Regions from separate parts of the Homo sapiens genome. Here region 1 is linked to region 2. Evidence: fine-mapped expression QTL. A gene starts in region 2. The other region holds a variant in brackets. All regions are shown on one strand. Distances are from middle to middle.

The links. PIP is the estimated chance that this variant, and not a neighbour inherited with it, causes the effect.
Region 1: its variant is the best candidate, but not a certain one, in a credible set for the expression of TCF7 in nasal epithelium (TOPMed, PIP 0.65).

What each region holds. Positions count from the first base shown.
Region 1 is chr5:134,048,880-134,054,245 of GRCh38, reverse strand. It overlaps a transcript of VDAC1 not described here. Among named protein-coding and RNA genes, the nearest start is that of VDAC1, 47 kb to the right of the region's middle. RefSeq lists enhancers at 1,857-2,432, 4,159-4,734. The variant T/G (reference allele first, on the strand shown) is at 2,003.
Region 2 is chr5:134,111,954-134,117,319 of GRCh38, reverse strand. It overlaps TCF7 (transcription factor 7), which reads right to left and starts at 2,639. Exons shown (of 10, transcript NM_003202.5): 1 at 2,165-2,639; 2 at 1,933-1,999; 3 at 1,287-1,411. The coding sequence starts at 2,413. It also overlaps a transcript of VDAC1 not described here. RefSeq lists a silencer at 2,563-2,682 and an enhancer at 2,773-3,002.

The DNA of each region.
Region 1 (5,366 bases), 63 kb after region 2:
TGGCAGAGTAAATCAAGCATTAAAAACAAACTAATTAGTACTTCAGGGCAGTTTCATTCAAAAAATTACCACACTGAGAAGGTGTCTCATTTAGAACCGACTTAATTAAAAGACACCTTGTAAATTCCTGCAACAGATGAGGACAGTACTTTCCAGAAACGCCATAATTGAAATGTTTTACTGCTTATACCAAATGGTTATTAAATCCTTAATATCATAATTCCTTAAGAATGCCATTGTCAGTGACAAACAGCAGCTTGCACAACAAAGGAGCTGATTGTTCCCTCCTCTGGCCTGTAACCCACAGGAAGTCATAACGTAAGACTTCTCTGTTGCTGTACTTGGTTCTTTGCATTTTTAATGAGTAGGAGTAAATGCCAGCTCTGGGAGGAATCCACCATAAAGATAGAGAATGGAAAGAAGCCCTGTTTCTGACTTGTTGACTTGTGGTTTAGGGAAAAAGGCATCTTCCCTAGGTGAAGGCAGGCGCTGGTTGACTGCCGTATGGGTGGGCTGCCCTGACTGGGTAGCACAGAGATGCTAACTAAGTTGCCCAGCAAAGTGGAGGCTGGAGAGAAAGTCCCACCCATGCAATGTGGAATGGCCCGGAATGGGGCTGAGGGGGACAGGATGGGGTGTCCATAACCTGTTCTGTTTCCCCCCAGGCTTCCTCCCAGAGCAGCTGCCCTGGGGTGAGGTCCTCCGGGTCTGACTCCATGCAGGCTGCGCTCAGTGCTTCCTCCTGCAGGATCCTCCTTCCTGGCGCCTGCCCCTGGCACGGCTCACAGGAGCCCTAGACAATGATGGAGGGTTGGGCAATGGGTCCATTGACCCACAGCAAACTGACAAAATGCAGAGTATCCCCAGGCATGGTGGGTGCGGGTTGGAAGGGGGTTGTTTGTAGAATGGAGGGCTTTTCAGAAGGAACTGAAAGCCATCTTTTTGCTGACTTGCTGGGTGACCAGGCGAGTGGCATGGCCACTCCATGCTTCATTTTCCTCATTTAAAAAGAAAGTGGTGTTAGCAGGGCCTGGATTTGGAGTCAGTCTGATCTGAATTCAAACCCTGCTCAGTTATGCACTGTGGTATTTGGGGCTTCTGTTTCTTTTATTTCTTTCTTCTTTTTTTTTGAGACGGAGTTTCACTCTTGTTGCCCAGGCTGGAGTGCAATGGCGCTATCTCAGCTCACCGCAACCTCCACCTCCTGGGTTCAAGGGATTCTCCTGCCTCAGCCTCCCGGGTAGCTGGGATTACAGGCGTGCACCACCACGCCCAGCTGATTTTGTATTTTTAGTAGAGACAGGGTTTCACCATATTGGTCAGGCTGGTCTAGAACTCCTGACCTCAGGTGATGGCCCACCTCGGCCTCCCAAAGTGCTGGGATTACAGGCATGAGCCACCGCACCCGGCCAGGGCTTCTGCTTCTTAACTTTGCAAAGTTGGGGGAGCAACAGTAGCTCCCCACAGCATGGTGTCGGGGCTAAATGAGCATGTGTGTAGAGCACCTAGCACAGCGCCTGGCCCATGGCAGTGCTCAGGAAGTGGACTGAATAGGGGAGGGAGAAGCATCTTTCCTTTTAACCTTCTAGGTTCTCAGCAGGGACCCATAACAAAAGACAGCTTAACAAGAGAAAAGCATGCAAACTTATTTAATATAAGTTTTGGTTGAGCACGGTGACTCATGCCTGTGATCCCAGCACTTTGGGAGGATCACTTGAGCCCAGGAGTTCGAGACCAGCCTGGACAACATGGAGAGACCTTTGCCTCTACAAAAAAATACAAAAATTAGCCAGGCGTGGTAGCATGGGAGGATTGCTTGAACCTGCAAGGTCGAGGCTGCAGTGAGCCAAGATCAAGCTACTGCATTCCAGCCTGGGTGACAGAGTGAGACCTTGTCTCAAAAAAAAAAGTTTTACATAACACAAGAGGCTTCATAGAGAAATGAAGACCTGAAGACAGTTAAACCTGCGTTTTGTACCAGGTTTAATGAAGAGTGGAGAGT[T/G]GTGGGAAAAGGTGACAGGACAAAAGAGAATGAGGTCAATCAGAGTAGCAAACTGGGCAAAACCAGGAAAGCTTGACCCTTCAGATTTCTCTTTGTCTTCAGAGGTAAGAAGATGCATCTTCCTTTCCCGCTGGTGGAGGGAGGGCGCCTTTCAAATGAGGGGTTATGACCTGCTTCAGGGGAAGGTCAGAGAGTCCTTCTTGCTTGTACCCGCTGTTGCTCAGATTCCTTCAGCTTAAAATATTCGGCCTTATGCAGTGGCTCACCCCTGTAATCCCAGCACTTTGGGAGGCTGAGGTGGGCGGATCACCTGAGCTCAGGAGTTCAAGACCAGCCTGGCCAACATGGTGAAACCCCGTCTCTACAAAGATACAAAAATTAGCTGGGCATGATGACAGGTGCCTGTAATCCCAGATACTCGGGAGGCTGAGGTGGGAGAATCACTTGAACCTGGGAGGTGGAGGTTGCAGTGAGCCGAGATCGTGCTATTGCACTCCAGCTGAAGCAACAGAGCAAGACTCCATCTCAAAAAAACAAAAAAACAAAAACAAAAACAAAGCCAAAAAAAAAAAAAACAAACTGCCCAGGCACTAGGGGTAGTGTGTCCTTAACCCTGTTGATTGGTATTGATGATTAACATCATTTAATATCTGTAAGAAGAGAGATATGGAACAGATGGTGTCACATCCAGGTATTGAGCAAGGGGACTGGCTGACTCACTCAACAAGGTTCTCACAAATGATCAAGCTCACAGAAGGGCACTGCCTGAAAGGAAAAGGCAGTGGAAGAAGCTCTGGCCCCAAACCAAAATGCAAGTGACTCTGTAGCAGTCTTTTGTTTGAAGAACGTTGGTTAGTCTGGTTGCCCTAACCTGCAGAAGCATCCCAAGGCGCCTTCTTCACTGTAGCCCAGGCCTAGCCCACTGTGGGTGCTGCCAGAGCTGCTGTGGACTCTGAGAGCGGGCTCAGCATCAGAGCTGGGTTGGGACCATTGCAATCTGGAGGGCTGTGGGAGAGTTGGAGTTAGGGCCTGGCCCCCCTGGCTCCTGGGCAGTGCTCCTTCTCCATCTCACTGTCTGTACAGTCCAGACAGCTGTTGGCCCACAGGGTGCCTTCAAGGAAACTGGAAGAAGGTGCTCTGTCCTCCTCTAGCTGGAGGGCATGGGGTGGATTTCAGCCTCACTGGTTCCCCGGGCCAGGTGCCCTTGTGCAGGGCACAACACATACAACTGTATAAGGCCTAATACACTGCCAACTCTCCCCTCAGCCAGGAGTTCACACATGCCCTCAAGAACCGCCAGAGGCCTCTTCACTTGCAAGGCCCTTCCTTATCCCCAGAAACTCCTGATGGCTTTTTTGCTGGGAAGGGGTGGATTGTTTTTATCCACCTGAGCCCCTGCTTCCATCCCCACCTTGACTCTGCCACCACACTCGCCCAAAGCCAACTCAGCAAACACAGATATGCCCAGTGACACCCTCATCTCCAATTTGACATGTTTTTAATATTCCACTTTGAGAATTTTTGCATCCTTTGAGTTTTTCAAGAAGTTTCTTAGGCTAATTCCCATTAGGAGAATTCTGCCTTAACTTCAAGTCAACCAGTACATTGTGGAAGCTTCTAAGAAGAAGTGGAAGACTTTGAGAGAAAGTCATTAATGTGGAGAAGAACGGGCAATCATTCCCCTGTAATTTAGGAAGACATCGGCCTCCCTATTTCACACTCAGTATTTTGCATTCTCTTTCATCTCTCCCCCTGCCCAGAGGAAACAGTTGCTGGGGGGGCTTGGAAGTGTAAATGGGGCTTCTCTTCAGTGCATCCCCCAAAGGGTGTGCTGAAGAACTAACGCATTGAATAATTTAAAAGCAAACTGTACAACCACTAGAAAATAGAATTATTAACTTCTGTAGAAGGGTAAAGTACTTCAAATCAGGAAACAGTGAATAATATTGAACAAGAGAAGGTGGCACATTTATTTATTTATTTATTTATTTTCTTTTAGACGGAGTCTTGCTCTTTTGCCAGGCTAGAGTGCAATGGCGTGATCTCGGCTCACTGCAACCTCCACCTCCCAGGTTCAAGCAATTCTCCTGCCTCAGCCTCCCGAGTTGCTGGGACTACAGGCGCCTACCATCACGCCTGGCTAATTTTTGTATTTTTAGTAGAAACGGAGTTTCACCATGTTGGCCAGGATGGTCTCAATCACTTGACCTCATGATCCGCCGTCCTCAGCCTCCCAAAGTGCTGGGGTTACAGGCGTGAGCCACCGCGCCTGGGCGGTGGTGGATTTAGTACATCTAAATTTCCATATGTAAAAGCTAAACTAAACAAAGTTGAGTGGAAAAACACACCTCAAAAGCTTTAGGCCAGGAACAGGGTGGCTCACACCTGTAATCCCAGCACCGTGGGAGGCCAAGTGGGGCCAATCACTTGAAGTCAGGAGTTTGAGACAAGCCTGGCCAACATGGCTAAACCCCCATCTCTACTAAAAATACAAAAATTATCCAGATGTGGTGGTGGGCGCCTGTATTCCCAGCTACTTGGGAGGCTGAGACAGGAGAATTGCGTGAACCTGAGAGATGGAGGTTGCAGTGAGCTGAGATCACACTACGCTCCCTCCTGGGCAACAGAGTGAGACTCTGTATTAAAAAACAAAACAAACAAAAAAATAAACTTTAGAAATGTTTGTACCAATTGAACTAGTAATTCACTTTCTGGGGAATTTTTGCTAATGAGTAACCCTTAAATATGGAGTTGGGTTATGCATCAAGTTGTTTATTGCAGAATTATTTATGGCAATAAAAAATAAAACCAGAAAGTAATCTAAATTTGCAGTGATTGAGGAATAGCAAGGGGTGGGCATGGTGGCTCACACCTGTCATTCCAGCACTTTAGGAAGCGGAGGTAGGACGATTGCTTGAGGCCAGGAGTTGGAGACCATCCTGGGCAACATAGACAGACCTTATCTCTATTTATTTAAATAAGTTAAAAATTAAATTAAAGGATAGTATGAAATCATTTTAAATGCTGTTTCTGAAAATATTCACAGGGAGTCAGTGATACATACTATTAGGAAAACAGTCTTGACATCAGCTAGACCTGGGTTAGAAACCCAGTGCTACCCATGTGCTTTGGGACTTAATCTCTCTCTAAGCCTAAGTTTACACATCTGTAAAATGAGGATAACAGTAGTGGCTACCTCATAGGATTACTGCATCATGTGAGATAATGCATATAAACTACTTAGCACAGAGTAAGCCCTGTCACATATCATGATTATTATTACTTTTGTGTAACATAGAAACATTATCCATGTTGGTTCATTCATTCATTCACTCAGCAAATATTTACTGAGGTACCATTTGTG
Region 2 (5,366 bases):
TCTCTGGATGTAGTCACTACATCAGCGGGGGAATGCTGGGGGGCACACCCCCCATCTCACAGACTTGGAAGGAAGTGAACCACCTCATATACCAAGCCACCCCAGAGCAGAAAGTCGGATACAGAGACTACTCGAAAAACATACTCATTTTACAGATAAGGGCCCAAAGGGCAAGGAGCTCATTTCTAGAGCTAGCCATAGAATAGGCTTTCCAGCCTAGGCTTCTGGAAAGAAGCCTATATGTCTTCTCATTCCCACTGGCTTGGCATGCAGCAGCTCTCAGAACCACCCTCTTCACTCCTGGTCTGAAATAGCCTAGCACTTAACTCTCCTCCCTCTGGTGACCCCACTGTAGCCATGCGAGCCTCCAGCCTGCCAGCCCCACCTGCACTGGGCTTACATTCACACCCAACACTCACTTACCACAGTCCTCCAAACCTTCCACGTACCTTCACCCCAACTTGGACCAACTGAGGAGAGTGTGAAACACGAATAGGAATTTCTTTAAAAGCGCAGCTGTACTGCTCCAAAACACTCAGAATAGGCTCTTCACACTTTAGGTCATCTGTACCAATGGGCATGGTTTGTAAAGATCATGAAATCTTTTCAAAGCACTGGGACTTAAAAATATTTAATTCACGAATTAATTAAACTGGTCCCTTCTCAACATCACTGATTTGTAGCACCTTTGCCAACCCTTCCTGGTATGTCTGAGACCAAGCCAGTTTCCTAAGAACCCACTTTCCACACATGGTGTTCAGGGTCCTTCTTTGGCAACGGTACACTCACGCCCGTCAGGACACAGCCGACCGAACACAGCACGTTTCTCCTGCACAACCAGGGGACCTGAACAGATCAGCTTTCCTGCCCATTCCTCCAAGCGCCAAGGAGGCTCAGGGTTTCCTGGGCTAGTTAGAAAGTTAATTGCAAAGCTCTGAGCTCAGATCAGAGCAGCGAGGAGCAAGGGTGGTCTCGGCTCAAAAGTTCTCTAAGAAGACCCCACCCTGGCATCACCCAGCACCAGGACAGAGCCTGCACCTGCTTATGAGCAAGCTGGGAAGACAAAAGCCAAGAGGCAGAGGGCAGGGGGGTGCCCCAGGGCGGCCCCTCCTTCCTTCAGCAAAGTTCTCCTTTTGGTTCAGATCCCACCGGGTGTGTATGGGAGAAAAGACCAGCACAGGAGTCTCGTCTATTTTGTTCCAGGCAGAAGTCTCTTGCCGGTGCCTCACCTACCTGGTCAAGGAGGCTGCAAGCACAGGGCGGCACTGGCTGCGGGGTCCACTTACCAGCGGGGGCTGCGGCTGGGGGTGCTGCCCTGCTCCCGAGGGGGGTGGGTAATGCATGAGCAGATTGAAGGCGGAGTAGACGGTCTCTTTGTACATGCCGCTGGTGCACTCCGGGGCCTTCAGGCCTGGAAAAACCACAGCTGGGTCAGACACACCAGCCCTGGCAGCGGCTGGGACTGAAGGCTGTCTGCTCTTGAGAGAAAAAGAATTGCCAAGGGGTCCCCTGCAAGTTCCTGACTTGGGAAGGAACGGGCTGGGAGTATCGGCAGTGCCAAGTTTTAGGGGAAGGACCTGGAGGGCAGGCCTCCCCGAGGTGGCCCCTACTTGACCTCCCACCCCCCGCCCTCCAACCAAGAAACCTTGGCCAATTCTGTCTCCTGAAGGCGGCGGATTAGTCAGTCACCTGGGCAGGAGGGGAGGCGGGGATGGCGGGGGTCTGTTTACTCCTATAAAGGTCAGGGCACCGGAAGTGACTCGACCCGGCGGCGCCCGGGAAGCCCGCCCCCCACTCTCCACCCCTGGGTTCTGCCGCCTCCTGAGCTGCGGTGGGGGAGGCACCCGGCTCCCCGCGGTCCTTGGCGTCCCCGTCCCACCGAGGCCAGGGCCTGAGCGCGACGAAGGGAAGCCGGGCCGGGCAGAAACTCACCGTCCTCCAGGGGCTCTGGAAGTTTGTCCGGGAAGAGTCTCTGCGCAGCGTGTTCCCGCCCGAGAGCCTGGAGGGAGAACCGGAGGGGAGTGAGGGGCGGTGGGACCGCGGGGGTCGGGGCCGACGCCGGGGCAGGGACGCTCTGCGCGCTGGAGACCCCGAGGGCCGCGCGCAACTGGGGCGGCGCGGCGCGGCGACCGCGGGGGAGGAGCCGGCGCCGGCGGGGGCTCACCTCGGCCTCGCCGCGGGCCCCGGCGCCGGCCCCCGGGACCCCCGGGATCCCTGCGCCGCCGGCCGCGCCCTCGGACTCGTTCACGAGCGACGACTTGAGCTCGGCCAGGTCGCGCTCGGGACCGGCGGCGCTGTCGCGGCTCTTGTCGTCCTGCTCCTCGCCTTCATCCTGGAAGGCCAGCAGCTCGTCCGGCGCGCCGAGGTCGTCGCCGCCGCCCGCGCCGCCCCCGCCGGAGTCCAGCTGCGGCATGGTGCGCTCCGCCCGCCGGGGCGCGGGGCGCTGGGCGCCGGGAGTGCGGGGCGCGGAGCCGGCCCGGGGGGCGGCGAGCCCGGAGTCCGAACCTCCGAGCTCGGATCGCGGCGGGCGGAGCGCGGGCTGACTCCGCCTGGGCGGGCTGCAGGCGCGGGCTAGGGCGCGGGGCAGAGCGGCTCCGCGAGCTGGCGGGTCGGAACATCAAAGGCGCCGCCGGCCGAGTGCCGGGGGCGGGGCGGGCACTGGGGGCGGGCCGGGCCGGGGGCGGGACACAGGTCCGCCCCGCCTCTCCTCTCCCGGGAGAGGCCGGGACGCGCCCACTCGGCATAGCCTTAAAGGGCTCGCTCTTCCGGAGCGCACCCTGAGAGAGACGTCGGACAAGCCTGGGAATGATCACCCTTCTCCCGAAACGCAGAGACTCTAACGGGAACTCCTGACCCCGCTTACTCACCTACAACCAGATATTCCCCCTGCTTTCTGCGCCCAGGTTTCTCCTCCGGCTGTGGAGGGCGGGGGTCCCCTAGGCCCTTGGGACTTGGGCGTGGCTTACCATCGCAGCCGTGGTGTGAACTGTATCGTGCCCAGGCTCCAATGCGCCCTGTGCTTTGAACTGGGGGCTTCCTAGGGCTTGAGGCTGCTTGAGGCTGTGCTCGTACCCCAGGGAACCGGCAGCGTTGGAACTCCGCGGCGCTGTTGCGGCTCTTGCCCCATCCTCCATCCCTGTGCCAATCAGGGACTTCCTTCTAGGCCGCCTGCATACAGTGCGAACATAAGTATACCCCCCTTCGCACATTTATTGAGCTCCTGTTGCGTGCAGAGCTTATACATCACACATCTGTGACGGGCCCCTCAGTCAGGCGACGGCTCCGAGCCGCGAACACAGCCAAGAGCACCGGACCTCAGCCGATCCTCCAAGTCCCAGCCCCTATGACTCTCCCAACTCGGTTCCGTGACTAGAACCTGCAGCCCGGAGACTCGGAACTTTGGGCAGCCACGTGGGCGCGGGATTCCGACATGGGTCGCTCGTCCACAGCAACTCAACCCTAGAAGTCGCATTTAGGGAGCCCATGACTCTGAAGTTGACCCTGGCCTGACTAACCCTCTAACCCTCGCTCGATCCAGGCTGAAACATCTAGATTTGCGGAGCGCGGGAAAGTGCCTGGATTCCAGCGCATCTGTATGGCACCCGGGTCTGCGTCCACGCGGGCCTCCACGGCGCGCTTGGCCTGGCTCAGCCCCTGCATCTACAAAAGACGCCGGTCCTTTGGATCGCGATGCAGTCAACAGCAGCTCCCCTAGCAGGTTTCTGTGCTGGGTTCACTGTAGACGCTCACGCCTCTTCTGAGAGCAGTTGGGATAGAGGGTATTTGGGGGAGGGCCGGGTATTGGACGCCTCTCCCTCTGAGGGCCCCACAGGACCCCTGGCAGCGGTGCAAAGCCGGGCCGGAAGACAGCCGTGCCTCCCTCCGGGTCCAGGCCCAGCGTGGCTGGCTGTGGATCAAAGAGCTAGGCCATGCTTCCCTGTGTTCAGATCCTATCTGTGCCCGCCCAGCCGGGTGTCTCGGACACCAGCCCCCACACCCCCCTCCCCCGCCACCTCCGGGCTAGGGTGCCCACTTTTCCTCCTTTCCCCAGGCTGGGGCTGGGGGGTGGCATGGGCACGAGTGCTCAGCTTGGTGATGGAGATGAGGGGGACCCTGCCCATTAGGTCTCCCCAGCCTCTTCCCAGGGTGGGCTTGCCGCTTAGTCTCGCCTCATCTGCTCCGGATTGGCGGGGAAGGGGGGGCTCGGCCCTGCCCGGAGGGGAGAGGTACAGGGACGGGAGTTCAGAGCCTCCGCCACCTCAACTCCTGAGGTTATAGGTAGGGTCTGGCATAGGGTGAGCCTCCTCTGGGACAGCTGAAAGGGAATCCGGATCTGCCCAACCCAATGGCTTTAGGGGTCCTCATGTGTTTGTAGGGAACCCTGGTTCAGCAGGAACGTCCTCCAGAATAGCTGTCCCCAGACCCATGAGTTCCACCGACACAGATCAGTGGAGGCTGAAGTGTTCTCCAGTCCTTGGAGAAAGGAGAAAAGTCACAACAACAGTGAGGTTCTTTTTGTTTTGTTTTGTTTTCTCAATAAGGTTAAAACTTTCCAGCTTCGTATTAGCCTTTAATCAAGGATTATGCCCTTACTGCTTTATTGGTGTGAAAACATCCTTTCTTTACTAAAATGGTGGTGGGACAAGTGTTTTTTTTCATGTCTTTATTTGGTGAAAGAACATAAGGAACATTTTTTTCCCCATCTGTTAACTCCCCCACCCTCAAGTTTCTTTGGACATTTTATAGTCTGGGAACAACTGTCCTATGGGGTCATAGCTCCAACTCCCCACCCTGCTGGCTGGAACCAGAGGAGAGGGTGGGTGAGTAGGGAGAGTGGGACTGTGAGGAGGCGTGAGGGAGAGAAGGGCTGAGTCACAGGCATCCACAGCCACACTGAAATCAGTCTGAAGGCTTGCTAAGGGATCATCTACTGTGTACCTAGCCCTGGCTTGGGCTGTGGAGAGGGAAGGGCTAGAGGTGTCTGCCTTCCAGGAGCCATTGGCTGCTTTGAGAAGCTGAAGAGTTATTAGAGCCGATTTAGGTGCTAGAGTAGTCTATACAGGTAATGGACAGAAAGAGCTCAGATATGGTGAGATCAATGTGGACTAGAGTAGTCAGGGTGGCTTCCTGAAGGAGGTAGATTTCATGTGGGCCTGGATGGCTTAGGAGGGTTTGGAAAGCTGGAAAGGAACAAGAGCTCTGATTTGTTCCCCAGAAGTTGGTGCGGCCCCACAGGAGTCCCTGGTCTAGTCAGCACTGATTCCTTCACCATCGTCTACACAACGACCAACCTCATATACTGAGTGATTACTATGTGCCAGGCATCCTGTCAAGAGCTTCACACACATTATCTCATTTAATCATCA